Linked DNA regions of Homo sapiens. The protein of the gene in region 4 purifies or fractionates together with the protein of the main gene of each other region. This does not show direct contact. Each region holds a gene or a part of one and is shown on either strand. Other genes may lie near its edges. The genes, in order: SMCHD1, FKBP14, TINAG and TSHB.

Region 1 (7,029 bases), on a different chromosome or scaffold from region 4:
AAGAAAACAGAAGTTAGCATTTTATAGCACGGAGGGAAGAACAGCCATGCTTTGTAAGACATACAGGTCCATTCAAACGAATAACTTTAAAAATTAAAGCAAATTATAAATTAGAGGGAAACTGGCCAGGCATGGTAGCTCATGCCTGTCATCCCAGCACTTTGGGAGGCTGAGGCCGTCGGATCACAAGGTCAGGAGTTCAAGACCAGCCCGACCAACATGGTGAAACCCTGTCTCTACTAAAAATACAAAAATTAGCCAGGTGTGGTGGCGCACACCTGTAATCCCAGCTACTCAGGAGGCCAAGGCAGGAGAATCACTTGAACTGGGGAGGCGGAGGTTGCAGTGAGCCAAGATCACACCACTGCACTCCAGCCTGAGCAACAGAATGAGACTCCGTCTCAAAGAAAAAAAAAAATTAGAGGGAAATTGCAACAAGAAACAAAAGGGTGACAAGGATCAACAAAGAGAAAAAGTAAAAACACAAAAAAATGAAAAGGAGAAAATACAAATGACCAATGAACACATGAACTGTAAAATCACATTAATCAAAAAATGAGAATTAGAAAAGTGGTTAACATTTTCATTTACATTAGAATTAAAACATACATGCTCTGTCTAAAATGAAACAATACAGCAATATATAGTTAAGAGAAAAGGCTTCTGTTTCGGGTAGTAATGGACTAGTCTAAAGATTAACATTCTTATTGAAAACATCTAAAAAATCTAGACTAGTGATACTCAAATCTTCAAAAATGATATTAATAAAAACCATTATTGCTCACCACTGGGATGAGCTAGGGCACCAACTTGTCACTCTGAACACTGACAAATTAAAGGGAAAGAACAAATTATTTACACTGCTTTTCTTGTATCAATGGTACTTCAGGATAACCAAAATAGCTCTGGCTGATGAGGCAAAGTTGTTCCTTAAAGAATTCCAGCTAATAAACACAGGAGGAATGGCAAGTCAGATCAAAACTTCCTTATGGAGGAATCCTGCTGAAATCACGTGAATCCCAAGATTTTAATGTTAGCATTGCTATGAGTGGGTGAAACACCCACACATCACGTGCCTCCCAGTGTAATGCCATATGAAGTATCAGTACTACCTACAAAGCATTCTTTGCCTCCTGACCCCAAAGAAGTTGAACCTAAATCAAATCAAGCCTTTAAAGCTAACTTTTAGTTTACAGAATACATACGGAGATAAAACAAATTAAGTAACACCAAAAAAGAGCACAAACAAATCCATAATGTGGAATATTAAAGACCTAGTTGATTTCTTCAAGAGGTCAACTGCAGGAAAACTAAAGAGACTGGTGGAGGAGGAATTTGCTCAAATGCTTTAAATTGAAAATAATTAGGAAACAAAAAAAAAACAAATTTAATGTGAGGACTATGTCAGATCCTGATTTAAACAAACCAACTATAAAAAGATACTTTTAAACATTCAGAGAACTCAATATGGACAGGGACATTAGACAATATTAAAAATGCTTTATTTTAATGGTTTGATAATACATATTCAGGCTGAAGTATATGGGGTGAAATGACCTAAGACCTAGAATATGCCTTAAATACATTACAAAAACAAAAATGATCCTAGTGTGGTAAATTCCTATTAACTTGAATCTGGATGAGTACACTGGGGTTCATAACATGATTCTCTCTTTGTGTCTGAAGGTTTTCATAAGAAAATTTCTACTTTAAAATATCCTGGAATAGGCCGGGCGCGGTGGCTCAAACCTGTAATCCCAGCACTTTGGGAGGCTGAGGAGGGTGGATCACGAGGGCAGGAGATCGAGACCATCCTGGCTAACACGGTGAAACCCCGTCTCTACTAAAAGTACAAAAAAATTAGCCAGGCGTGGTGGCAGGCGCCTGTAGTCCCAACTACTCGGGAGGCTGAGGCAGGAGAATGGCGTGAACCCGGGAGGTGGAGCTGGCAGTAAGGTGAGATCGCGCCACTGCACTCCAGCCTGGGCGACAGAGCGAGACTCCGTCTTAAAAAAAAAAATTCCTGGAATAGACCAGTGGAAGAGAATAGAGGGCCCTTAGACAGGTCCACATATATATGGATGCAGAGCCTAGCAAACAAGAGAGGTGACATTACAAATTGGTGGGGAAAGAATAAACTATCCAATGAATGATATTAAGACAACTAGTTATCTCAACATGGAAACAGATAAAATCCACACCTTAACTTAGACAAAAATAAATTCCAGGAGAATTAAAGCAGTTGTACATTAGCCCAAAATTGTAAAAGAACACATAGGGAAATAATTTTGAGTGAGCATAAAGGGATTTCTGAAAAGGTACAAACAGTGGGCCAGGCACAGTGGTTCACAGCTGTAATCCCAGCACTCTGGGAGGCCAAGGTGGGCGGATTGCTTGAACTCAGGAGTTCAAGACCAGCCTGGGCAATGTGGTAAAACCCCATCTCTACAAAAAATGGAAAAAAAAAAAATAGCTGGGCATGGTGGTGCACACGTGTAGTCACAACCACTCAAGAGGCTGAGGTTGGACGATCCCCTGAGCCTGGGAAGCCGAGGCTGCAGTGAGCCGTGATCACACACTACTGCACTCTAGCTTGGGTGACTTTTGAGTGAGACTCTGTCTCAAAAGATGCAAATAGCACAAGTCATAAAGAAAAAGACCAGACAACATAAAAAGATCAACATCACTAGTTATCAGTGAAATTAATATAACTTATTCTCATCAGGTAGGCAAAAATGTTAAATTCTGAGCCCATCAAGTGTAGGCCTCTGTACAGAGAAATAGGTACCTTACACACTGCTGATATGACTGAAAAAAAGTCAAACATAAAGAAAGTAATTAATTTGGCATACTTTAGTAAACTTAAAAGATACTCATATTCCATGCAATTCCACCCTAGAGAAATAAAGCCATGAACATAAACTGACTGGGAAGATTCTATTTGTTTAACAGAGACAAAAATGACCTTATAGATTTTTATTAGGTTTCATATAACCATGACAGTCGTGTATTTTTTAATTCATTACTACTTTTTTATTTCTATGATGTCCCTTTTTTTTTTTTTTTTTTTTTTTGGTTTTTTGTTGTTATTGTTGTTGAGATGGAGTCTTGCTCTGTTGTGCAGGCTGGAGTGCAATGGCACGATCTCAGCTCACTGCAAGCTCCGCCGCCCGGGTTCACACCATTCTCCTGCCTCTGCCTCCCAAGCAGCTGGGACTACAGGCGTGTGCCACCACACCTGGCTAATTTTTGCATTTTTAGTAGAGACAGAGTTTCACCACGTTGGCCAGCTGGTCTCAAACTCCTGACCTCAGATGATCTCCCTGCCTTGGCCTCCCAAAGTGCTGGGATTAGAGGCGTGAGCCACCAGGCCTGGCCAATGTCCCACTTGTTAAATCATGTAATTATGCATCCTGTAGTTACTGAAAAACTATGTGCAAATGATTTTTTTAAGATCTATGTTCACCTAAACATATCTAATTATTCCATATAATCCCACATAAGTCTATTATTTTTTCTTTCTTTCTTTCTTTCTTTCTTTATTTATTTATTTATTTATTTTATTTTTTTTTTTTTGAGACGGAGTCTCGCTCTGTCGCCCAGGCCGGACTGCGGACTGCAGTGGCGCAATCTCGGCTCACTGCAAGCTCCGCTTCCCGGGTTCACGCCATTCTCCTGCCTCAGCCTCCCGAGTAGCTGGGACTACAGGCGCCTGCCACCGCGCCCGGCTAATTTTTTGTATTTTTTTAGTAGAGACGGGGGTTTCACCTTGTTAGCCAGGATGGTCTCGATCTCCTGACCTCATGATCCACCCGCCTCGGCCTCCCAAAGTGCTGGGATTACAGGCGTGAGCCACCGCGCCCGGCCTTTCTTTATTTTTTACAGATTTTTTTGAGTACTCTTCTACGATAACTGCATATAATAGTTCATTTAGCCTTCACTAACTACATAGAAGACTCCCCCTATTTCCTAGCTGTCAAATTATCTACGGATAGGAATGCTAGCACCTTATTCTCTTCTTCAAACAATGGCAACCGGGTTATCGCTCCTGACCATCTAATTGTATCCAGTATTGCCTGTATTTTCCTGCACTGGAGCAAATAGTTCATTTTCTTTTGATTTTTAACCCATATTAAAAACCCACAGATGTTTAATCCATATTAAAAACCCAGATGTTTAATCCATATTAAAAACCCACAGATGTTTAATCCATATTAAAAACCCACAGATGTTTTTTAATCCATATTAAAAACCCACAGATTTCTAATCCATATTAAAAACCCACAGATTTCTAATCCATATTAAAAACCCACAGATTTCTAATCCATATTAAAAACCCATAGATTTTTAATCTATAAATCTACTATTATTCAATTAAGACACACAAACTATCTTTTTTTTTTTTTAAGTTCCTGGATACATGTGCAGAACATGCAGGTTTGTTACATAGATATACATGTGCCATGGTGGTTTGCCACACCTATCAACCTGTCATCTAGGATTTAAGCCCCACATGCATTAGGTATTTGTCCTAATTCTCTCCCTCTCCTTGCCTCTTACCCTACAACAGGTCCCTGTGTGTGATGTTCCCCGCCCTATGTTCATGTGTTCTCATTGTTCAACTCCCACTTATGAGTGAGAACATGCAGTGTTTGGTTTTCTGTTCCTGTGTTAGTTTGCTGAGAATGATGGCTTCCAGCTTCATCCACGTCCCTGCAAAGGACATGATCTCATTCTTTTTTATGGCTGCATAGTATTCCATGGTGTATATGTGCCACATTATCTTTATCCAGTTGATCATCAATAGGCATTTGTGTTGGTCCCACGTCTTTACTATTGTAAATAGTGCTGCAATAAACTTTAAAATTAATCCATATTAAAAATCCATGGTTTTTAATCCACATCAAAAATCCATATGAAATATCCATGGATTTTTCATCCATATTAAATATCCATGGATTTTCCAGGGGGCATGGTGGCGCATGCCTGTAATCCCAGCACTTTTGGAGGCCGAGGTGGGTAGATCGATCACCTGAGGTCAGGAGTTCCAGACCACCCTGGCCAACATGGTAAAATCCCATCTCTACTAAAAATACAAAAATTAGCCGGGCATGACGGCTGGTGCCTGTAATCCCAGCTATTTGGAAGGCTGAAGCAGGAGAATCGCTGGAACTTGGGAGGCGGAGGTTGCAGTGAGCCAAGATTGCGCCACTGCACTCCAGCCTGGGTGACAAGAGTGAAACTCCCATCAAAAAAAAAAAAAAAAAAACCATGGATTTTTAATCTATAAATTTATTATTATTTAATTAAGACACATAAACTATCTTTTTGTTTTCCCTGCTTCATCTATAAAAATTATTTCTTGAATTCACAATTTTTCTAAGTATTTTATTTTATTATTGTTTGTTTGTTTTTTGAGACAAGAGTCTCGCTCTGCCACCCAGGCTAGAGTGCAGCGGTGCGTTCTCAGCTCGCTGCAACTTCCGACTCCCGGGTTCAAGTAATTCTCCCTGCCTCAGCCTCTCGAGTAGCTGGGATTACAGGCACCCGCCACCAGATCCAGCTAATATTTGTATTTTTAGTAGAGACGGGGTTTCACCATGTTGGCCAAGCTGATCTCTAACTCCTGACCTCAGGTGATCCGCCCGCCTTGGCCTCCCGAAGTGTTGGGATTACAGGTGTAAGCCACTATGCCGTCCCCAACTTCTCTTAAATATTTAAGGACTAACTGACTTGCAGTGCATAAAATGATTACCTACCAAAATGATCAGTTAATTTTATTTTTAAAATTATTTTTTCACTATCTCTGAACAACAGGTAATTTTCATCCATGGATTAGTCAGAAAGCACACAGCTTAATTAGCACTGCTCTGAAACTCTGCAAACTAGTCAGCTTTTAATGTGGCTCCATTATATTTCGTTACCTTACTATGGCACTTGCTAAGCCATAGTTTTCTGCTTTTTTTTTTTTTTTTTTTCAAAATCTCAAGTTTATTGTAGAAATTGATGAGCACATCTTATATTAAAATACAAAACACCTAGAATAGCCGCACAACAAAAAACATTGGAGCCACACAAAGGAAAATGTAGACAATTTCTTCAAATTGGTGGTGGGGGGATATGCACACATGGGACTTAACATCTGGGCATATTTTAGAACTAACCAAATGAGTCATCTTCTAATCGTTGATTCTGCAAGGCCACAAGGGCTCAGGTGAGTCAACAGCTGCTTATCAGAGGTCTAAGGGCTTCTTGCAGATTTGTCCTTTCCATTTCTTCCCTCTCCTTTTCCATGAGGTGAACTTTATTCAAATAACAATTTAGAGCTGGGCGTGGTGGCTCATGCCTGTATTCCCAGCACTTTGGGAGGCCAAGGCAGGTGGACCACCTGAGGTCAGGAGTTCAAGATCAGCCTGGCCAACATGGCAAAACCCCATCTCTACTAAAAGTATTAAAATTAGCCAGGCGTGGTGGCAGGCACCTGTAATCCCAGCTACTCAAGAGGCCGAGGCAGGAGAATCACTTGAACCTGGGTGGCAGAGGTTGCAGTAAGCCAAGATGGCACCACTGCACTCCAGCCCGGGCAACAGAGCGAGACTCCGTCTCAAAAAAAATAAATAAATAAGTAACAGTTTAGGATCACCCATAATACTGCCTGACACTACAAACATTTATTGGTTTAATTTACATTTTAACAAAAACTTTAGTATATTATTTTGTCTCTTCCCCTAAGGACAAAAGTGATGGTTCTAATAAATAGTGTGGAGTAGTGTAAAAAATATATATATGTGTGTGTATATATATGTGTATATATGTGTATATATGTATATATGCGTATACACGTATATATGTGTATATATGTGTGTATGTGTGTATATATATGTATATATACATATACATATATATACACACACACATATATATGTATATGTATACATAAGCTTTGGAATCAAATTGACCTAAATTCCAATCCCAGTTTCACTGCTTGTTGACCATGTAATCTCAGATTATTAATTCACTGACTTAATT
Region 2 (6,933 bases), on a different chromosome or scaffold from region 4:
CTAAGGGAACAAGCAGCATCACGTAGAGACAGCTGTCTCTGGCAATGGCTCCAGTGCCCTCTTCTTCAGGGTTTCCACCCTAGCACCACTCACAGCATTAACTTCTCTTACTTTGGGAAGAAAAAAGTAGACTCTTTTCCAACAGAACAGATAGGAATCAAATAACAAAGATTCCAAAAGATCCTTCTAGAGAGTTCTGCTTTATTGAAGGATACACAAGGACAGTCAGCAACAACAACAGCAAAAGCATTTCACTACCAGGAAATAGTTACTGTATCAAGAGACTAAACTTTCTATATAGAAAGGAGAAGGAAAAGAGGGGGAAAAAACCCCACAAAACAACAAAAAAAGTTGGGGATGGGGAAGAATGGGAAAAAAAGAAGAATGTTGAAGATGAATGAAAAAAAGTGTGTGTAATGGAAAGGAGTGAAGGATCAGGAACTAAATTTTACTCAAGTATATGCATCTGAGAGCTTAGAGAGACCTCAGAAGGAAAACTGCCAGGTCGAGCCTCCTCCCCTTAGGTTAGCAGTGTTGATCAGCCTCTGTCATCCACCAAACCAAAGCCTAGCTTTGAGTTATTCTCATCTAATCTAATTGCAGACATCACTGAAGGTCCTTGACGCAAACAAGAAAAACCTCTTCTCATTTAGTCTCTATTAATGATTACAGAAAAAAAATAAACAGGTGAACTCACTGCTAATTACACTAAGCAAAGGGAAGAGATTCTGGGTACGCCCAATAGGGGCACCTTTGGCTGTGCTGTGTGACCTCCTCGAAGTTACTATGTATGCCAACTGATCCTCCCACACACACCCATTCTTAAAACACCCGGCGCATTACCATACTACAACCTTTTAAAAACTATCCCACAAAAGAAAGAAAACGTCTCTCACCCACTCTAAGGGATACTGGGAACATTTCTGCTTTCAAACACACTGCCTTTAAAATTTTAAAGACCTAATTCATTTTCTGTGATAAAAAGTTTACTTCCAAAAAAGTGGCTAGCACAGTTTCCAGCATATAGTAGGCTTGTATTAAATACTAGTTGCACACATGACAAAAATGATCGTTCTGAATAATTTTCACAGCTGTAGAACAGTTACAACCTTCTCAAGATATGAAGCTTTTACCTCCACAAACTAGAAAAAAAGGGCGGGGACTATTTTAAAGCCAATCTGTAAGGCACGGCAAGAAAGTTGCAAATATTTGCATTCATTTAACGGTAATTTCTGAGTCTGTAAAACAAAAGGAAATGCTCAACGAGAAAATAAAAAACCTTGTGCAGAGCTTTGAAACTGTGGAGTTGGGACTCTTGACACCCTGGTGTGCACGCAGATGACTCTGAAGGTGACAAAGGGAAAGTGTTTGCACTGAGGACTTTGATAAAGGATCTTTCCGCTGTGGAATTCCAGGTTACTGCTGGCATTCTTTTGAAACCTTCCAACCTAGCTGCGAGCCAAGGGAGTACGGTTCCTTCGCCAAAATTCAAGAGATTCCCAGAGAACCCCACGGCGGGGCGTCTGCGCCTTCCTCCCGCTGACATCAAGAGCACCGTGCCTTTCAAGTCACCCAAAATCTCAGTCTTTGTAGCCTTCCTTGAAGCGAAAGGGCAGCCACAGCTCTTAACCAACCCCAAGAGAGGGCCGTGTCGTCCTGCACGGCGACACGGTCCCGTGAGAGAACTGCTTTGGGAAATACTCCCGCTCCGCGCTGGCCTCAGGAAAGGGCCGTGACCCCCTCCCTAAGACGGGTCCAGACACCGCCCTCCAGCCGCGCAGACAAAGGACCGGCCCCCGGCGCGCCCCCGGCCCGGCACGGCCACTCACCGCTCAGATAGTTGGTCCACTTGTACAGCACCCCCTCCATGGCGCCCGCGGCCACTCGGCCCACGCCCGCCGGCCCCCTCACTGCCCCAGGCCCCAAGAGGCGAGGAGCACCAGCAGCAGGGCCATCGCCTGGCGCTGCCCAGACGCCCACTCCCGGCGCCCGGGCCCGGTGTGGGGACGCCCGGCCCGCCTCACATCCTCGGCCCGGGGGCGGGGTCACTGCGGCGGCCTCGGCGCTTGAAGCCCAGCCAGCCGGTGAACCCGTGGGGCGAAGCCGGCACGCTGTTCACAAGGAGGCCCGGGTCCGGGCCCTACGTGGGTCGGAGGGGCAGCCGAAGCCTCCAAAGTGCGGCGAACGAGCTGCCGGTCGCAGGCGGCGCCACGGCGCACCACCTGAACCCTCGACTCGCCGGGCCCGGGACGCGCTCGCGCATGCCCAGGGCGCCGCTCGCGCGCCCCTTCCCAAAATCCACTCCGGGATTTCGCGGCAGCGGCGGCGGGGCGGAGTTTGCGGGAACGGCCCGCAGGGAAATTGAGTCCCGAGACGCGGACTGCGGACTAGGCGACGGGAGGAGGGAGGCCCCTGAGACAAGTGTGGAGCGCAGTTCTGACTGTAAATGGTGCCCGCCGTTTGAGGGTCTACGTGACCTCTCACGATACCTCCTGAGTTCTAGTCCCTATTCTTGTTCCAAAGCTGCCTAATTGATCTCACACACTTGAGGTAACCAATAACAGGGCGTAAAGAGATTATTGGAATTTCAGGGTAGAATACTATGAGGCCAGTGTAAACAGATGTTGTCCAGACTCTAAGGTCTCACTATGGAAGTGTTGATCTACTGACCCGGAGCACTGACATCACCTAAGAGCTTGTTAGAAATGCAGAATCTTGCACCCACCCCAGACCTCCAGATCAAAATCTGCATTTTAAACAAGATCTTCAGGGGGATTCCTATGCACATAGAGTGCGGATATGCACTGTGTTAAGGTTATTAGACCAGAAAAAATGTTAACTACAGATTAAGTGGAAAGAGGAGGTGAGAAAAGACTACAATACGATTTAAATCGCTTTAAGTATATGTCACAGAAGCATGCACCAAAATATTAAGAGGATTGTTTGCGGCTGGTGGTGGTATCGGCGAGCTTTCTTTTTCTTTAAAGTTGCCTGATTTAGTAAATAAAAATGCAAAACCATTATTCGTTATGTATCTGAAATTCCAACTTGATTCGACTCCCCAATATTATCTGGAAATCTTACTTTAGTGCTTTCCAATTTCTTCCAAAATGACTTCAATGAACATGCATTACTTTTGAACTTAGGCAAAAAATGTAAAACTAGAAAATGTAAACTACGATGAGGCTGTGTAATTCGTAACCATGATTACCATTTCTTCTTTAAAGCGGAAGTCTGCAAGTCGAAACTCATTATTTACCCTGTAAGGTAACTTAAGGGATAAATTATTAGCAGCCATAACATGACGTGGTGCTGTGGAATGAATCAGACCTGGTTTGAAGGCAGAGCTCATTTGCTTCGGGGCCAAACAACCTTAAGCAGGACAGTTAATATCTCCTGGTGTAAATTTACTTCTCTTTTAAATGGGAAAAAAGAACCTGCCTTACTGGGTGTAGTGAGGTTCATGCAACGGGAACGCGCTTTGTGAACCCTCAAGCAGTATGTCAGTCTTTACAGTTTATAAGCAATAGCAAAATCCTAGGATTGTGGCATCTTGGGGGGCCGCTCTCCAACGGCGAGAGTAAACGAGTCTTTCCTGGAACCCCGAAGATTTCATAGGGCCCCGGGACTCTTCCTACGTCTCTCAGCAGGGTTCTTCACAGAGATAAATCAGCCGGAGGAGTTTCCGGTTGGCTCTGCGCCCCGCCCCTCTCCCAAAATCCACGCTGGTTGAATGCTGAAATCCACCGGGCTCTAGGACCACAAGGGATGATCCGCCGCTTGGCAGCTGCCCGGCTCTACCGGGCTGTAAATTCCATCGTTGCAGCGTCATTGGCTTGAGAGCTGCCTGAAGGACAGCACCAATAGCCAATGGGAGGCTGCTATTCCCAGGCGGCCGCGTTATAAGAGCCAGTCAGGCCGGCATTTGGGCTTAACTCTTTAAAGGTAGGTTCGTGACCCTTGAGAAAAGAGTTGGTGGTAAATGTGCCACGTCTTCTAAGAAGGGGGAGTCCTGAACTTGTCTGAAGCCCTTGTCCGTAAGCCTTGAACTACGTTCTTAAATCTATGAAGTCGAGGGACCTTTCGCTGCTTTTGTAGGGACTTCTTTCCTTGCTTCAGCAACATGAGGCTTTTCTTGTGGAACGCGGTCTTGACTCTGTTCGTCACTTCTTTGATTGGGGCTTTGATCCCTGAACCAGAAGTGAAAATTGAAGTTCTCCAGAAGCCATTCATCTGCCATCGCAAGACCAAAGGAGGGGATTTGATGTTGGTCCACTATGAAGGCTACTTAGAAAAGGACGGCTCCTTATTTCACTCCACGTAAGTAATTATGCCCCGCAGGTAAAATAGTAATTAAGAATCCACTCACTTATGCCAGCTCTCCAGCAGGAAAGGTGGCCTGTACCTGGTTTTGCCTCTTTTACAAAACCGAAATATCTTATTTCCTTCTTTGGGAAAGGAAATTGTTTAAAGCCAGTTTTATATAGCGAGCGAGGCCTTTGAAGGTCTTGTTGGAAACATGTGGTCTGGAAAAGGCTGTTAATTTTTTTTATTATACAAATTAGAACTAGAATCTTTGAAATATTGCAGAAATATATCTGGGTGTATAATTGGCCAATAAGTAGAAAAAGCCCAAAAGAATTCTCATATCTCAAACTCCATTTCTTAAAGAAAATGACTTGATTCCATTTTTAATGTGGTGTAGGTGATGTTCACCTAAAACTTTTCACAGCGACTTCAAAAGCAAACTACACTATCACTTATTTGCCTGTTGAAGGATATACTAATGCCGTTTCACTGACCTACTTCTTTTGTTCTGACGAATGGTATTTTGGTCAAGGCACAGGACCATGATTTCAGTCATTTGCTTCTTTCTAGAGAGTCAGACTTCATTGATGAGGTGGGTGTGGTTTTGGAAGTCTAGGTGAAGGATTTTCAGGTGGTTACACTATCATTTCTGTTCTATAAACGAAGAAATTGGAACATGGAAATGGTTTACAGCCTAATGATTTTCAATTAGGCATCGGTTCCATTCATTCCATTATGACAGTATTTAGTGAGCATTTCCTTGATGTTAAGCCATGTTCTGGGTGCTAGGAAGATTCAGAAATTTTGGCTTCTAATCATCTTCATCTATTCATTAGTCTGTCCATCTATCAAACTCTTATTGAATGGTCACAAGTCAGGTCCTGGAGACGCAAAGATGGCTAGAAGCAGGTTCTTGTCCTCTAACAGTATACACCATCTACAGGTGGGAGAAAGACAAGTAAATAATGCAATGATATAGGGTACAGAATATTCAAAGTGCTAGCAAAGCGTAACTGGGCCTGAAGTAGTTAGGCTCCATGGGGTGGGGAAAGGGAAAGACTTCCCAGAGACCATAATTGAAATGAACCTTGGAAGATGGGTGGAGGTTTCCAGGGGGAAAGTAGGGAAGGATGTTGTAGGTAGAGGGAATAACATGAATTAAAACAGTAAATCTTCATAGCCCATCCTCCACCTGATTTTCTAATAAACTGCCTTTACTGGGCATTCAGACCTGGTCTGTCTTGAGGGTTGGGGAAATGAATGGGGCTCTTCTCTAAACTGTTAGCCCTGGGAAAAAGTTCCAGAAAAATGGCTTGCCTTAGAATTCTCAACAGCCCTTTCTTCTTGTCAACTAGGTGAGTGCCACGGTGGATATTAAATGATGTGATTTGCATTTTGAAAATTCAGTTATATTGTTATTTTTAGTCTGATCTCTTTTAGACTCAGCCTGACTTCTTTCAGATTTCTGAACCAAAAACCTGTGCTGACTTTGGTGGTAGCCATGGAATATTATTTAGCAGTTTGCTACTAAGTTCTAATACCTGATGAGGGGACTGTTATCATGCAGCCTCCATGTAAATGGTCAGAAGCTGCTAACTGTAAACTTCATGAAGAAATACCATCAAATTGGCTGGGCGTGGTGGCTCACGCCTGTAATCCCAGCACTTTGGGAGGCCGAGGCAGGCAGATCGCGAGGTCAGGAGTTTGAGACCATCCTGGCCAACATGGTGAAACCCCGTCTCTACTAAAAATACAAAAGTTATCTGGGCGTGGTGGGCACCTGTAATCCCAGCTACTCAGGAGGCTGAGGCAGGAGAATCGCTTGAACCCAGGAGGCGGAGGCTGCAGTGAGCCAAGATTGCGCCGCTGCACTCCAGCCTGGGCAACAGAGCGAGACTCCGCTCTGAAGAAAAAGAAATACCATCAAATGATCAGTTTGTAAGCACGTTTGCCATCTCTAGAACCATAGCCTATGGGATAAATTGCTTAGCCCTAAGAAGAACTGTGCTAAAATTGTAGTCAGTGATGAGTAGTAGAATGTTTCCTGCTTCTTTTTTCATTTCTAGCCTTCCCAAATTTTCTACAGTTGGCATTTTGTTACTTTGATCATTGGGCAAAATTACAGGAAAAAATGGCATTACCCAGATTTAGTAACCATGGTACTCATGAAGCGTAGTACAGTGACTTCTTTTTCTCACCTACAAGATATCCTTGAATAGAATATTTTCCTTATTGCACTGAAAGGGAGCTAGGTAGGGATCAGGCATTACTCAGCCCTTAAGCCTCCCTGTATGTAGTTCGGCAGGTTGGTTTTCCTAGGCTAGACTCTCTTCAACTCATGAGCCAGGACATTCTATTTCCCTCGTCCCCAGTTGATAGGGTTCCGCTATGGCCCCACCCAATTCTCATCTTAAATTGTAGCTACCATAATCCCCACATGTTGTGGAAGGGACCTGGTGGGAGGTAATCGAATCATGAGGGCAGGTTTTTCCCATGCTGTTCTCCTTGTGATAGTAAATAAGTCTCACGAGATCTGATGGTTTTATAAAAGGCAGCTCCTCTGCACACTCATTCTTGCCTGCTACCATGTAAGACGTGCCTTTGCTCCTCCTTTGCCTTCCGCCA
Region 3 (7,029 bases), on a different chromosome or scaffold from region 4:
CATTTAATCTAAGTCTTGCCAGATGGCTCTCAGAAGTAGCTGCATTAGTTTATGTTCCCCTAGTACTATACGGGGACACGTCTCTAACAATTAGTATTATCCAGAGAGGTAACCTTTACTTATATAATCAGTAAAACGTGATTTCTCATTGTCATTTTAATTTGCATTTCTCTAATTTCTAGTGGGTTTGAGCTTCTCTTCATATGCTCATTAATGATTGGCTTTCTTCTTCCTGTGACTTACTTTTTCCTATCCACAGCCTTGTAATGCAACTTAATATCAGGTACAGCAAGTCAGCTTATTCACCCCCCTTTTTTGAAGATGACTTAGGTCATGTAGACATTAATCTTCCATAAACAGTTTTTGAATAAGTTTTTTTAGTTCCTCAAAAAACTTCAGCTAGAATTTTGAATAGAATTGCATAAAATTTATAGACTTATTTGAAGATAGCTGAACTCTGTAATGTGATGACATCTCATCAAAGAGTATAGGATATTTCTCCACTTACTCTGATTTTTAAAAATATCCTTAAATAGATTTAACACTTTACTCCATAGTGGCCTTATAATACTCTTGTTTATTCCTGGATATTTATTTTGTATTGCTTTTTTTTTGTTTGTTTTTTGTTTTTTGTTTTTGACAGGGTCTTGCTCTGTCACCCAGGCTGAAGTACAGTGGCGCCATCATGGCTCACTGCAGCCTCGACCTTCCCCGGGCTCAAGTGATTCTCCCACTTTAAACTTCCAAGTAGCTGGGACTACAGGTGCCTACCACCATGCCTGGCTATTTTTTTGCATTTTTAGTAGAGATGGGGTTTTTCCTTGTTTCCCAGGCTGTTTCAAACTTCAGAGCTCAAGCACTGTATTATATATTTTTAAAATATATTTTATAGTTGGTTGGCTGTTGTTATGAATAAATGCTATTTATTCATGAGAGCTCATATCCTACTGGCAATTTTTCTCAATTCTGTTATTAGAAACAAAAATGTATTTATTTATCACAGTAAAGCTGTCTACACCAGAACTCCAAAGTAAACATCATACATAATGGAGAAATGTAGATAAGTTCCCTTTAAGACTAGTAATAAAACATGGGTTTCTACCGTTTTTGCTACATTTAACAGGGAGATATTTGTTATGCTTTAAGAGAAAAAATGAAGTAAAACAGTCTGAAGAGAATAAAGTAAAACTCTTATTATTTGTAGATAATGTGGCAATCTACATAGAAAAAAATAAAGCCAACAGAAAATAGCATTAATATGAATCAGAAATATTTAAAAACCAGGATTTTTTATTTAAAAATCCAGATGTTTAGCTACTCTTGAAAAATTGAAAAATCTGACAATTCTGCGTGCAAGGTCTTGCATGAGATTTTCATTAGTGAGAGAGATGAGTGGTGGATGCCACCTTTTGGTAACATGTATTTTCCATTTTCCCATATCCCTTACCCCTTGCTATTTTCTCTCTGACCCACTTCTCTCATCTCTGCCGGGGTCAGTATGTCTGTAGTTTCTGTAAGTGGAACTCCTCATTTTTGCTCCATATACAACTTGCACAGCTGTACATGCACCCTTGGGCCATTACTATTGCAGGTATTTTGGGATTGAAAGAAGGTAATTTCTTTGAAAATGGAAGGTGTATTTTCATCGAAAAATAGAAAATACATGTTTAAAAATAGAAAATACATGTTTAATAGAAAATACACGTTTAAAATTAGCATCTTAAACATGTATTTTTTTGAACTTCTCTATTTTGTCATGTTGGTATGATCCTTAAAATAATAGGTGAAGTTAATATGTATTAGTAACATGATGAGAATACATAAGGCATCATAAGGAGCCCTGTGCCCAGGATTAGTTAGGGATCGTATTCCTGTTATTTAAATATAGTTTCTAATAGTGACAAGATTGGGCAGACAAGGGAAATTCACCCCTCACAGAACCTGCACATAGTACATATTTACTTAACAGACCCTTCTGTAATACCCTGAGTAGCATGTTTTCTCTTGTCTTACTGAACATACTCTTCCTCCTCCTTACAAGCTAAGATTTATTGAATACTTACTATGGAGCCAACAACTGTTCTAAGCACTTTTCAGGTATTAACTCATTCATTATTTAATTCTATGTTGTTTAATAGAATATTACTTTATTTTAATTATACAGCAGCTTCTTAAGAGTAAACACGGTGATTTACTTATCACGTACTAATTATGGTGCCATGAAGTGGGAGGCCTAGTAAATATTGTTTGAATTTGGATTAATTGATATTTAGAGGATTTAAATTTTATTTCAAATTTTGTATTTGTTAAATTAAATAATAATTTACTCATATGATTTAAAATAATAAAATATTTTCATAAGCATACTTTTTCATACATAGTTTTAAAAGATATTTAGAAAATATCAAAGTATTATTGTTTATAGTTTAAATGTGCAATTTCTATATTATTTTGGATGTTGGAATATCAACAGGAGTAATCGATAGTATTTAAAACTTTTTATATATCCATGATTGTGGTAAGCATTGAGGGTCATAAGAAAAGGGTATTATAAAGTCCCAGGCCTCGAGAAACTTAGGATCTACATGGGTAAGGAGACTTAGGTATGCGAAACAATTAAGAAGCATCGTGTGACTTGTATGCCACATGTGGACAAGAGTATCACCCAGGAAAGTTGAGTATATTAAAATGGTTAAATGTTTATTTGATAAAAACTATGTACCATATAAGAACATGTCAGATTGGTGACAACCCTAACTAAAATACGTATTTTTAACACATAAGATATTTTGCCTGGATTCACTTTGTCATTAGCCACGAGGCTCCATGCAGCCTTCTGCTTCACCATTCTTAGAAAATGGCCCTTGTAGTCATGAGCTGCTTTGGCTCTTCATGATCCAAAAGTGATATTTGAGTCCCATTTAAAATAAATGGAAAAGAAGGTTAGAGTTTCCACATTTTGAGAAGACATTCTAAAGCACAGATGAGCACCTCTGTTTTATTTCTTTGGCCAGAATATAGTCACATGGACATACCAACCATCAAAGAGAGGTTTTTCTTAGCTGTGTGGTAATGTGTCTAGCTATGAATGGGGTTCTGTTACAAAAAAAAAGAGTAGAGAATGATATTGGGAATAACCAGCAATCTCTGCCAAAAATTAAGAATGCGGAATCACCTAAAAACACAGTGGCTATTTGGATGTCTGCCTTTTGATTAGTTATTATATCAATTTAATATTTTTTTGAGTCTCAGTTTAAAAGTATGAGTTGTAATTTTTTAATGTGCTGAAATGTACTTGAGATTTTCTTATTTGAGGCATACAGTGCATACAAAAAAAGTAGTTGCTACTTCTTCAATATCCATTTTTGCTTGAGAGGTAGAATTTTGCTAAGACTTTAATTTAGGGTCATAGTTTATGTAGAATTTATGTTCCAGGTATAGTTTTTACTCCATTCACTATGAAAGGAAGGAATTAATCATTTTACTTTGTAGCAAAAAGTTCACATTAGACTATAAATGCTCCCATACAGATAATTTTTTTTCTTTTGTTTTATCTTGCTTTTGAAAGCAGCTACTTGAAAATAGTACTACACAATATTGAAAAAATGTGCAAAATTAGTTAAGATAAAAATACAATGTATATTATTTATGCTATTGGTTGCATGCATAAAGCAACTTTCCTCTGAGATTCTATGATCACTCACTGATCTATTAAATATATTTTTCAGAGATTTAGTTACATGGGTATTGTTCAGTTCCTCTTATTGTGCCTGTTCTAAGAGCTCTTTAAATCAAGGATTTAAAACTATGTACATTATCTTCAGGATTAAAAAAGTAAATATATCCATTTTGTACAAACTGGAAGTAAAGCATATTGGTAAATATCTTCTTTCTGTATTTTCTTTGCCATATCTGATGGTAACTTCCAGTAAAGGATTTCAAATGTCAGGCTGGGTGTGGTGGCTCACACCTGTAATCCCAGCACTTTGGAGGTCAAGGTGGGAGTATCTCTTGACGGCCAAGAGTTTAAGACCAGCCTAGCAGTACAATAAGACCTCATCCCCACCAACAACAATAAAAAAAATAAAAATTAGCCAGTCATGGTGGCATACACTGTAGTCCCATCTACATGGGAGGCTGAGGCAGGAGGATCCCTTAAGCCCAGGAGTTTGAGGCTTCTGTGAGCTATCATTCCACCAATGCACTCTAGCCTGGATGACAGAATAAGACCCTGTCAAAGTAAAAAAAAAAAAGTAAAAAAATTCAAATGTCAGATATGGAGAACCAGTGACAGAGTTGAAAACAGAGCTCGAGTGGATTTTCTAGACATAACCTTTTGGTATAGAGGATTTTAAGGAGAAAGTCTAGTAGACCATCTGCTGTGAACAGACCTAAGTTGATTTGATTATGCACAATATGTTCACATTGGTAAAAAATGTATGTGAGTCACTGACATGTTTGAATTCGAAGAGGGTTATTTACTTCTTCACAGCCTCCTTAACTATATTACAATGAAGGTAAATCACAGTCCATACTTTGCCACGTATACTGACAGTTACAAAAATATGACACAAACCAATTCATACAACGTCTATAAGCTTCATGAAATCTCCAGTTCCTGTCCTTTTACGTGTTCCCACATCTACGTTGCATGAAAGATTTATTGGAGGCACATGTGATAATATTACAGAGGTAGAACTCTGTTACCTATACAGTGGCTATCAGAGAATGACAATTCCTCCTTTCTACTTGGCTGGACACAGTACACAGGACAAATATCAGTCCTAGAGAGCCAAGTCTAAGAGTACAGGTGCTTTTGAGTTTAAGAGATACATCTAAGCTATGGGATACAAGGGTGGTATGTGACTTTGAAATATTTTAGGTAATCCTCATAAGTAAAAAAATTATAATTTAACCAATGGGAGCCAATTATTTATCACAATTATGCTGATTAACAAGTCATGAATTTTAACAATAAAACCCATTTCTGACATTTATTATACTAATAATCTAGGGTTGATCAAAATATGGGTAATGGAAGCACTTGCAGCCGTTTCTCCAAAGCCTGGTCTTTCAGAGTGAATGCCACTGAACAACCCTGGGGGGTGGATTCCTGATTAGAGCAAGCAACTGCCTTTACTTTAGTGAAGTTTAGACCAGCACAGATATTTATAATACACTGTGGTGAACTATTTTAAAATAAATTATAGACAACATGTCATTATCTTTTTGCAATTCAAGAAGTGAAGTTTTGACCAGCATAGATACTTATAATACACTGTGATGAACTATTTTAAAATAAATTATAGACAACATATCATCATCTTTTTGCAGTTCAAGAAGTGAAGTTTAGACCAGCACAGATACTTGTAATATACTATGATGAATTATTTTAAAACAAATTATAGACAATGTATTATTTTCTTTTCTCAATTCGAGAAGATAAACTATTTCATTCTCCAAATATATTATTTGCCTAATATTGCTTTAAATGCTGTTAAAGTCACAAAACTGCCGTAATTTCAACAGTCATTAGTTTTGGCTTTGTTTTGTTTTGTTTTTTTGGTCAAGATGCTGTGTGTAACCAATTAATTAACTCACTCTGAGGAGCTCCAGACATATTTTACTGAGAAAGTAAAGCTACCGGACAGGAATTCTTTCATATCTCCACAATCATAGTTTTCAACCTACCTCCATCTGGGTTACTGCTTACCTTGAATTGACTCCCCTTCTTGAGTTCTGAATCCCATCTTCTCTTATCTTTTCAATACCTCCATCTCTACCATTCTCTCTCGCTTTCTTGCTCTCTCTTTCTTCTCAAGCATCATTTTTTTCTTTTCTTTTCTCCTGGTGATATGGTTTGGCTGTGTCACCACCCAAATCTCATCTTGGATTGTAGCTCCCATAATTCTCACCTGTCATGGGAGGGACCCAGTGAGAGGGAATTGAATCACGGGGACAGGTTTTTCCCATGCTGTTCTTGTAGTAGTGAATGAGTCTCATAAGATCTGATGGTTTTATAAATGGGAGTTGCCCTGTACAAGCTCTCTCTTGCCTGCCACCATATAAAATGTCTCTTTGCTCTTCCTTCGTCTTTTGCAATGATTGTGAGGCCTCCTCAGCCATGTGGAACTGTGAGTCTATTAAACCTCTTTCTTTTGTAAATTACTCAGTCTTGGGTATGTCTTTATTAGCAGTGTGAGAACAGGCTAATACATGTGGATTAACCATTAATTTCCAAAATGTGTTTTTGCCTTTCCCAACTTTATAAAATCTCTCCCTTAACTTCATGTCTTTAACCAGCTACCATCTCATTCCCTTCTTTCCTTTAATGGCAAAATGTCTGAAAGAAAAATTTACTTTCTTATTCCAAGTCTCTCATCAACCCATTCCTACAGGATGTCAGCTCCCTGCTACTTCACTGAAATCTCTCTTGGCAGGGTTATTGGCAATTCCTACATTACCAAATGCAATATTCAGATGTCTGTTTTTGTGTTCTTGGCCTCTCGACAGTACTGTATGCAGCTGACCACCTAGAGCATTTGAAACACTGTATTAACCCTGTTTTTCATGACACCACCCTCTCCTCAATTTTCTGTTCCCTCACAGGCCACTCCTTCGCAGTTTCCTCTTCTGAATGTCTGTCAGATGCAGTGTTTTGAGCTCAGTCCTGGACCACTTTCTCTTACCTATATACACTCTCTCCAAAAGACTCTTATTTAGTCTTGTGTTTGAAAAAGTAGATATGGATGTTGGTGTCTCCCAAATTCATGCTCCAGCCTGGGCTTAACTCTTGTCTTTTATAAACTGCTGTCTACTTGATATCTCTGTTAGGATGTCTAGCCTAGGTTTTATCTAAATCTAAAATATACACAGTAGCAGTCTTGATTTCTTGACACAAGCCTGTTTCTTATTTTAGTGATAGCTGTACCATTTCTTTATTACTCAAGCCAAAGTCCTAATGAGGTATCTTTGATTCCTCTTTTCCCTCATTCACCAGATTCAATCCATGAGTGATTCCCTTTGAGT
Region 4 (7,274 bases):
TGCTGACACATATTCTACTGCATATATATGACATATTTGTTTATCACCTGTGGATGGACATTCAGGTTGTTTCCAGTTTGGGGCTATTAAAAATAAAGATGCTATAAATGTTTATGTACAAGTTCATGTATGGATATATCTTATTATTTCTCTTAGATAAATACTGAGGAGTGGAATGATTGGGTCATATTGTAGGTGTATGTTTAACTTTTTGAGAGACTTATGGACTGACGAACTTGTACCATTTTATGTTTCCATCAAACATTGTATACAAATTTCGATTGCTCCACATCCTTGCTAACCCTTGGTATTTCCAATTTTTAAATTTTAGGCAGCCCAAGACGTGTGTAGTGCTGTCATTGAGGTCTTAATTTCTTATCTCTGAGACTAATGATGAAAATTTTTCATCTGTTTACTTCCCATCTACATAATTTTGTGAAATGTCTATTCAAACATTTGCTTATTTAAAAAATTGGATAATTTTTTTCTTATAATTGAGTATAGCAGGTTCTTCATATATTCTGTATACAAGTTCTTTATCTTATATATAATTTGCAAGTTTCTTTTCTTTCAGTTTGTGGTATGTCGTTCTTTTAACAATGCCTTTCGAAGAGAGAAGTTCTTAATTCTGATGGAGTCCAATTTATCATTTTTTGAAAATGGATCATGCTGTTGGTGTTATATCTAAGAAAGTTTTGCCTAATTCAAGTTTTGCCTAACAAAAGTTTTTTTTTTTTTTTTTGGGACGGAGTCTCGCTCTGTCGCCCAGGCTGGAGTGCAGTGGCGGGATCTCAGCTCACTGCAAGCTCCGCCTCCCGGGTTCACGCCATTCTCCTGCCTCAGCCTCCCAAGTAGCTGAGACTACAGGCGCCCGCCACTACGCCCAGCTAATTTTTTGTATTTTTAGTAGAGACGGGGTTTCACCGTTTTAGCCGGGATGGTCTCGATCTCCTGACCTCGTGATCCGCCCGCCTCGGCCTCCCAAAGTGCTGGGATTACAGGCGTGAGCCACCTCGCCCGGCCCTAACAAAAGTTTTATTCCATGCTTTCTTCTAGAAATGTTAGAATTTTAGTTTTTATATTTCATGTTAATATTTGTATATAATGCAAGATATGTATTGAAGTTATTTATTTATTTTTAAAAAGTATTTATTTTTATATATGGATAACGAATTGTTCCAGCACCATTTGTTGAAAATACTATTTATTTTCTACTCAATTTTGTTTTCACCTTTCTTGAAAATAATTTGACCACATGTGTACAGGTTTATTACTGGACCATATTTTGTTCCAATGATCTGTCTTAACACCACTTTCTTAATTACCATAGGTTTACCATCTTGAAATCAGCGATTCAGTAAGATTTTCAACATAGATGGTCATGTCGTATGTGAATAAAATTTTACTCCTTCCTTTCCCATCTGAATGTCTTTTTTCCTTTGGCTTATTGCGTTAACATTGCACTTACAGCACAGTGTTTAATAGAAGATGCAAAAGCAGACGTTTTTGCCTTTTTCCTGATCTTAGAGTAAACGTACTCTGTCTTTCAATATTAAGCATGATATTAATCATAAATTTTCCATGATGCCTTTTATTAAGTTAGGAGGTTTTCTTCTATTCCAAGTTTGCCGAAAATTTTTTCAGGAATCTATGTTGGATTTTGTAAAATGCTTTTTGTGTATGTGGTTGTGTGTGTGTGTGTGTTTCCATTGGGATCATCATAAGGCTTTTAGTTTTTAGCCCGTTAGTAGGGTGAATTTTCTTAATTGAATGCAAACTAAACTCGCATTCCTGAAATAAATTCCACTTCGACCATGATGTATTATTCTTTTTACATATTGTTTATTTTGTTTTGTTAAATTTTGTGAAGAATTTTTGCATCTATGTTCATTTCATGAGGGTTATTAGTTTGTGGTTTTCTTTTTTGATAATGTCTTTCTTGTGAACTCTAGCTGCCTTGGGGATCCATGGACTCCCAGGTCTATCTCTTCAATTTGGTGATGCTTCTGGCCTCTGCCTTGGTAACTTTTCATGCACTATGGCACAGAAACTTTCTCCAGGCAGTCTCTCCCTGTTTGTTTCCCATCTCTCTCGGATCATGTACTTTTGTTACCTGATGTCCAATATGTATAAAGACATTATTTTATATATTTTGTACTGTTTTATAATTATTTTAGGTGAGAAAGTAAACCTGGATCAGAAGCACAAATTCAACATGCCTGGATTCTTTTAACAGTATGAGATCATATACACTAAGGCCTCTTTAGCAAGAAAATCACTACCCAAATGCATGGTATTTATTATAGTTCTTTTAGTAACAGGCCAAGTGTCTATCAGTTGTCCATTACATATGTACACACACACATACATACATATATCTCCCAGGGATAGGTATATAAATCCGCTAGAAAATGAGTTCCTGAATCAATGCTTTATACAAAGGAGGCACTAATTCCATTAGAAACACACATCCAACATTCTTCCATTTATCATATTCCTGTGTTAGCATCTTGTCTGAAATTAGGTTGGCACACTCATTTCCAGTTTCCCTGTTTTCAAAATTATCTTACTACATAGTAGCTCACATTCCCAAGACCTTGGACCCTGGCATGGCCATTTCTAGGTATATATCTGTTAAACTAAATGTGGCCTGAGGATACCTCTGTTTTGTGAGTTCCTACATAATGAACTGCAACCTAACTTAGTATGTACACTACCTGAAAGCCTAACTTAGGAGTATACTTTTGTAACAGACAGCTGAATTTCAGCTCATCACAGCAGCTGAGCTTCAGTCAATTACAGGCAGCCAGCTGATCAGACTTTGTCCAAGTAAGGCAAGTGCTGATGTATAATGAAATCAAGCTGTTTCGATATCTCATTTCTACTTTCTGTCCATAAATGCTGTCTGCCCACATTGAGGAGCAGAGCTCTGTGAATCTCTTCTGATTCTGAGGGCTGCCTGATTTGACAATCATTCTTTTTTCAATTAAACTGACAAAAACAAGCAATGGGGAAAAGATTCCCTGTACAATAAATGGTGCTGAGATAACTGGCTAGCCATATGCAGAAGACTGAAACTGGATCCCTTCCCTACACCATATAGAAAAATCAACTCAACGTGGATTAAAGACTTACATGTAAAACCTAAAACTGTAAAAACCCTCGAGGATAACCTAGGAAATATCATTCCAGATGTAGGACCGGGCAGAGATTTCATGACGAAGACGACAAATGGAGTTTCAACAAGAACAAAAGTTGACAAATGGGACCTTTAACTAAAGGGCTTCTGCATTATGGCCCAGAAACTTTCTCCAGGCAGTTTCTCCCTGTTTGTTTCCCATCTCTCTAGGATCGTGTACTTTTGTTACCTGATGTAACAGGAAAAGAAACTATCAACATAATAAACACACAACCTACAGAATGGGAGAAAATATTTGCAAACTATGCATCTGACAAAGGTCTAATATCCAGAATCTATAAGGAGCTTAAACAATTTATAAGCAAAAACTGAAGAACCCCGTTAAAAAGTGGGCAAAAGACATAAACAGACACTTTTCAAAAGAAGATATATACATGGCCAATAAGCATATGAAAAAATGCTCACACCACAAATCATTAGAGAAGTGATATTACCTTTTAATAGAAACTGAAGAGGTCAAGCATGCCAATGTCATATGGCAAGTAAATGGCAGGGCCAAAATTTTATCTCAGGTCAGCTTGACATCCTGTCAGATGTGGCCATGTTCCTCAGAGTCATTCTTTCACATGTGTAAATTTTACTTAATATCTTAAAATCCCCCAAAAATATTTTGAACTACACATTTTGTTCTAAACAAAATTTTTAGATGAGGAATAATTTTATATATCTTTACATGAACATTTAGGTAAAACTTGAAGCCCTCAAGCCCCAAATAAATTTTTATTCCCAAGACTTATTTAGATGATGTTAGAGTGTTTTTTGAATTTGGTTTTTCCCATTCTGTATCTATCTTTTATTAATATTAATAAATAAATATTAATAAAGAATATATTTAAAAGGTAATTTTATTTTGAAACAGAAGAGAGGAAAATGCATGCTTTAATAATGTCAGTTTCCAGGTAAAGATATTGTGAGCTTGTTTGTCTAAATACATTTTATTTGGAATTCAGTATGAATTTTCAATAGATGCTTTTCAGATAAGAAAGCAGTAAATCAAATGCAATTGTATAAACAAGAAGATCAGAGGGATTATCCTGAAGGGTATAAAATGAACCAAGAGCTTTTAGTTTGGGTCACCACAGCATCTGCTCACCAATGCAAAGTAAGGTAGGTGTCTATAGTGAGAAGGCTCTGTGAAATGATATGTTCTTAAGCTATTTTTTTTCACTTTCACCATTTTATCATTTTTTAGAAAGTGGCAAATGCTGAAAGATAATTTGCTTCAACAGGCTGTAATATCTTAAATTACTGCTCCAAATTGTTTAGTAGTAGATGGAGGTGAGAGAACTACCTACATAAGGATAAGGAAAAAATTCATTGACTTAAAGAAAGAGAAACAACTGATTAGTTCCCTAATGAAGGATATTTGATATTCATGGCTTTCTTCTGTTTTCATTTTGATTTAAATATTGTTGTCCATTTAATGATGTGTGTATTAAATCCTCTCAATTACTGTACTAATGGCCATCTTTTATGAAAATGTACTTCCGGGAATGTTAGAGCAAATTCATTTTTGAGTACCTGCTGGGGTAATGTACTCTGTATTATAAGTTCTTTTTAGTTATTTAATAGCTAAACCTCCTTTGATAGTGTTCAACACACACACAGCTGCTGTATAGTACATTTTGCTTTCTAGAAAAATATACTGCTTTAGTGAAGTTCCAGGATTATTCATAGGATGGGCAATTAGTTCTTTTCATAGTAAGGGATTTGGAGAGTAAAAATTAATGAAGGAAATTAGCAGAGCAGAGAGGAAAGTGTTTATTAAGAATGAAGCATTGGGAGCAAAAATAAGAGAAAAAAAGAGAGGAAAGAGGCAAAGGAAAGAACATATCTTGGAATAAGAAAATACGTTCAAAGTAGGGACATATATGTCCATGCATCTGAAGAAGGCATCTCATTATTTAGGCCCTGCCTGAAACCATGCCTTCTATGTTTAGGTACCCAACAAATTATTCATGGTGATTTCAGAATAAGCAATTAAGTGGCAAAGATGAGAACCCAGATGACAATGAGGAAGAAATTGTGGCATATCACAGAGGAAGGGATTAACTAACGCGGATTTGTACAGTGTTATACAGCTATGTGATCTTTCTTATATAGAGAGCCAAGTGTTTCACATGTATTGTTTTATTCTTTTTATGATTTTAGGAAGGGACATATGGAAAAATGAAGGCACAAAGATATTAAATTGCTCAGTTGCACACAATTACAATTAAATCCTTAAGTAGAATTTAGATCACTAACTCTTAATCAATCAATCAGATCTGACACTAATTTATCATATAGAATTACAGACTATTTGTGCTGCGAAGATTTTCATGATCATCTTCTGGCTCTAAGCCCTGCTTTTATAGGTGAGAAAGTTGAGGCCCAGAAAGATTCTGTGGGTGAAGTTTTACTATTCGCAATAAAGAAGTAAAGGAAAAGAAAAGTTCTTGCTTTCTTTATGCCCACAAAGTTGTACAGATACTGTGGCTGGTAATTCAGCACTTCCATTTTCTACTTTTGTTAGTTTAGAGTTCTACATTTATAGGAGAAACTTCAAAAAAATATAGAGTATCCATAGTTAGTATGACAATAGGAAAACCAAAACAAATTTTCATCCTACATTTTAAAAAGGGTCAGGTGTACTTGTCACTTTCTATTTTGCAGATGGGGAAATAACACTCAAACAGATTATATATTTTAGTCAAGTTCTCATAGATTTATGGAAGAATTCTGTTTCTTAATTTTTAGACCAATATTTTCATCACCAGGTCACCACATTGATTTTATACAGAATTATAGAGCTAAAAGTTAAAATATGTGAAGTTAGTTGTTTCCTATAGAAAAAACTCAGTAGCTGGCTGTCTAAACAAGCAAGAACTATAATGGCCATGATGGGTAAGCATTTTACATAATTTACCAGTTAGTAATTTTAAGATCCTACAGAGGATCATCAAGTTCTGTATCTCTAAAATACTGGAAGCAACTCTGTACCATAGAGGGAGCTCACATTTGAGAAGCGCTTGAGAAAGCCAGATTCCATGAGTAAGGAATTTGTATGTTTTTGCTCCTTAACTCAAATACCAAACAAACCTTCCGTGGAATGTTTGAATATGCAACATTTCATTTAAAAGAATTTGTGAGAAAAACCCCTGTTATTTTAACCTTTAAAAGTTAAGTCTTCCTAAAATGGGTTAGTTTACTTTCTTGTGTAATAAGAAGTATAGTAAACATAAATCTTTGATAATTGTAGGTCTTAAAGTCTTAATTTGGACTCTTTCAGAGCACTAGAACAATCTGCGTTTTTATTATTTGTGTTCATATTAGCTCCTCCACTGGACAGTCAGCCCTTTAGGTAAAGGACCGTAGCTTTTCCGTTTGTGTTTGTCAGTGCCTGGTTCAGATGCTCAATATATGTTTATCTAATTTATCTACAATTCTCATTCTAGGAATAGAAGGTTGATTGAAATGACCACTGATCTCTGGAATTTGACATTTAAAATAAATCCCTGGTAACCTGTGTAATGTGGTTTTCATGGTTTCTTATAAGTTGATTGAAAAAAAAATCCTGGTTAACCAAGGCCGAACCTATGAGGTTTCAGTTTACAGAGGTTTTAGTGTATATAGCTTAAAGATGCTGTTGGGATATAACTGACAGATTTGGGGAAATCTTGGTACTTCTGATTATTGAACAAAATATTTAGTAAATTATATTTTATTTAATAGAACAAGCAAACAAGTTTATGTTCATAGACCACAATACTACTCCATTAAGGTATATATTTTCTTTACTGACAATGATACTTGAGAAGGAAAAAAATCCAAACACATCTAGCTAGCTGTACAATATTTGTAAGATTAAAAAAATTCTTCTTAATCTTCAAGGTGATCAACTTACATTCAAAAGTCTGAAATTTAATTACCCTTCCTCAGTAGTAGACCTAAAATAATTATGTCATAACATTATCCAGAGGGATAATGATATCAATATCAATATCATATCAATATCATATTGATATGATATATCCAATATGATATCATATCCAATATAACTATATCCAATCAATACATATTGATAATGATATCC

The links.
Region 1: the proteins of TSHB (region 4) and SMCHD1 purify together in Homo sapiens (affinity purification with mass spectrometry; 2 studies listed by BioGRID and IntAct, with this or other methods). This does not show direct contact.
Region 2: the proteins of TSHB (region 4) and FKBP14 purify together in Homo sapiens (affinity purification with mass spectrometry; 2 studies listed by BioGRID and IntAct, with this or other methods). This does not show direct contact.
Region 3: the proteins of TSHB (region 4) and TINAG purify together in Homo sapiens (affinity purification with mass spectrometry; 2 studies listed by BioGRID and IntAct, with this or other methods). This does not show direct contact.

Annotation. Positions count from the first base shown.
Region 1 is NC_000018.10:2,658,713-2,665,741, reverse strand, and holds part of SMCHD1 (structural maintenance of chromosomes flexible hinge domain-containing protein 1), read right to left. Parts: intron 1-7,029. UniProt on the Homo sapiens protein: Non-canonical member of the structural maintenance of chromosomes (SMC) protein family that plays a key role in epigenetic silencing by regulating chromatin architecture.
Region 2 is NC_000007.14:30,023,699-30,030,631, reverse strand, and holds the start of FKBP14 (peptidyl-prolyl cis-trans isomerase FKBP14 precursor), read left to right. Parts: upstream 1-3,929; 5' UTR 3,930-4,123; coding exon 4,124-4,320; exon of another isoform or gene 4,321-5,245; intron 5,246-6,933. Other genes in the region: PLEKHA8 (pleckstrin homology domain-containing family A member 8), read right to left, coding at 1,830-1,869. UniProt on the Homo sapiens protein: PPIase which accelerates the folding of proteins during protein synthesis. Has a preference for substrates containing 4-hydroxylproline modifications, including type III collagen. May also target type VI and type X collagens.
Region 3 is NC_000006.12:54,311,439-54,318,467, forward strand, and holds part of TINAG (tubulointerstitial nephritis antigen), read left to right. Parts: intron 1-7,029. UniProt on the Homo sapiens protein: Mediates adhesion of proximal tubule epithelial cells via integrins alpha3-beta1 and alphaV-beta3. This is a non catalytic peptidase C1 family protein.
Region 4 is NC_000001.11:115,025,555-115,032,828, forward strand, and holds the start of TSHB (thyrotropin subunit beta isoform 1 precursor), read left to right. Parts: upstream 1-4,271; 5' UTR 4,272-4,306; intron 4,307-7,274. UniProt on the Homo sapiens protein: Indispensable for the control of thyroid structure and metabolism.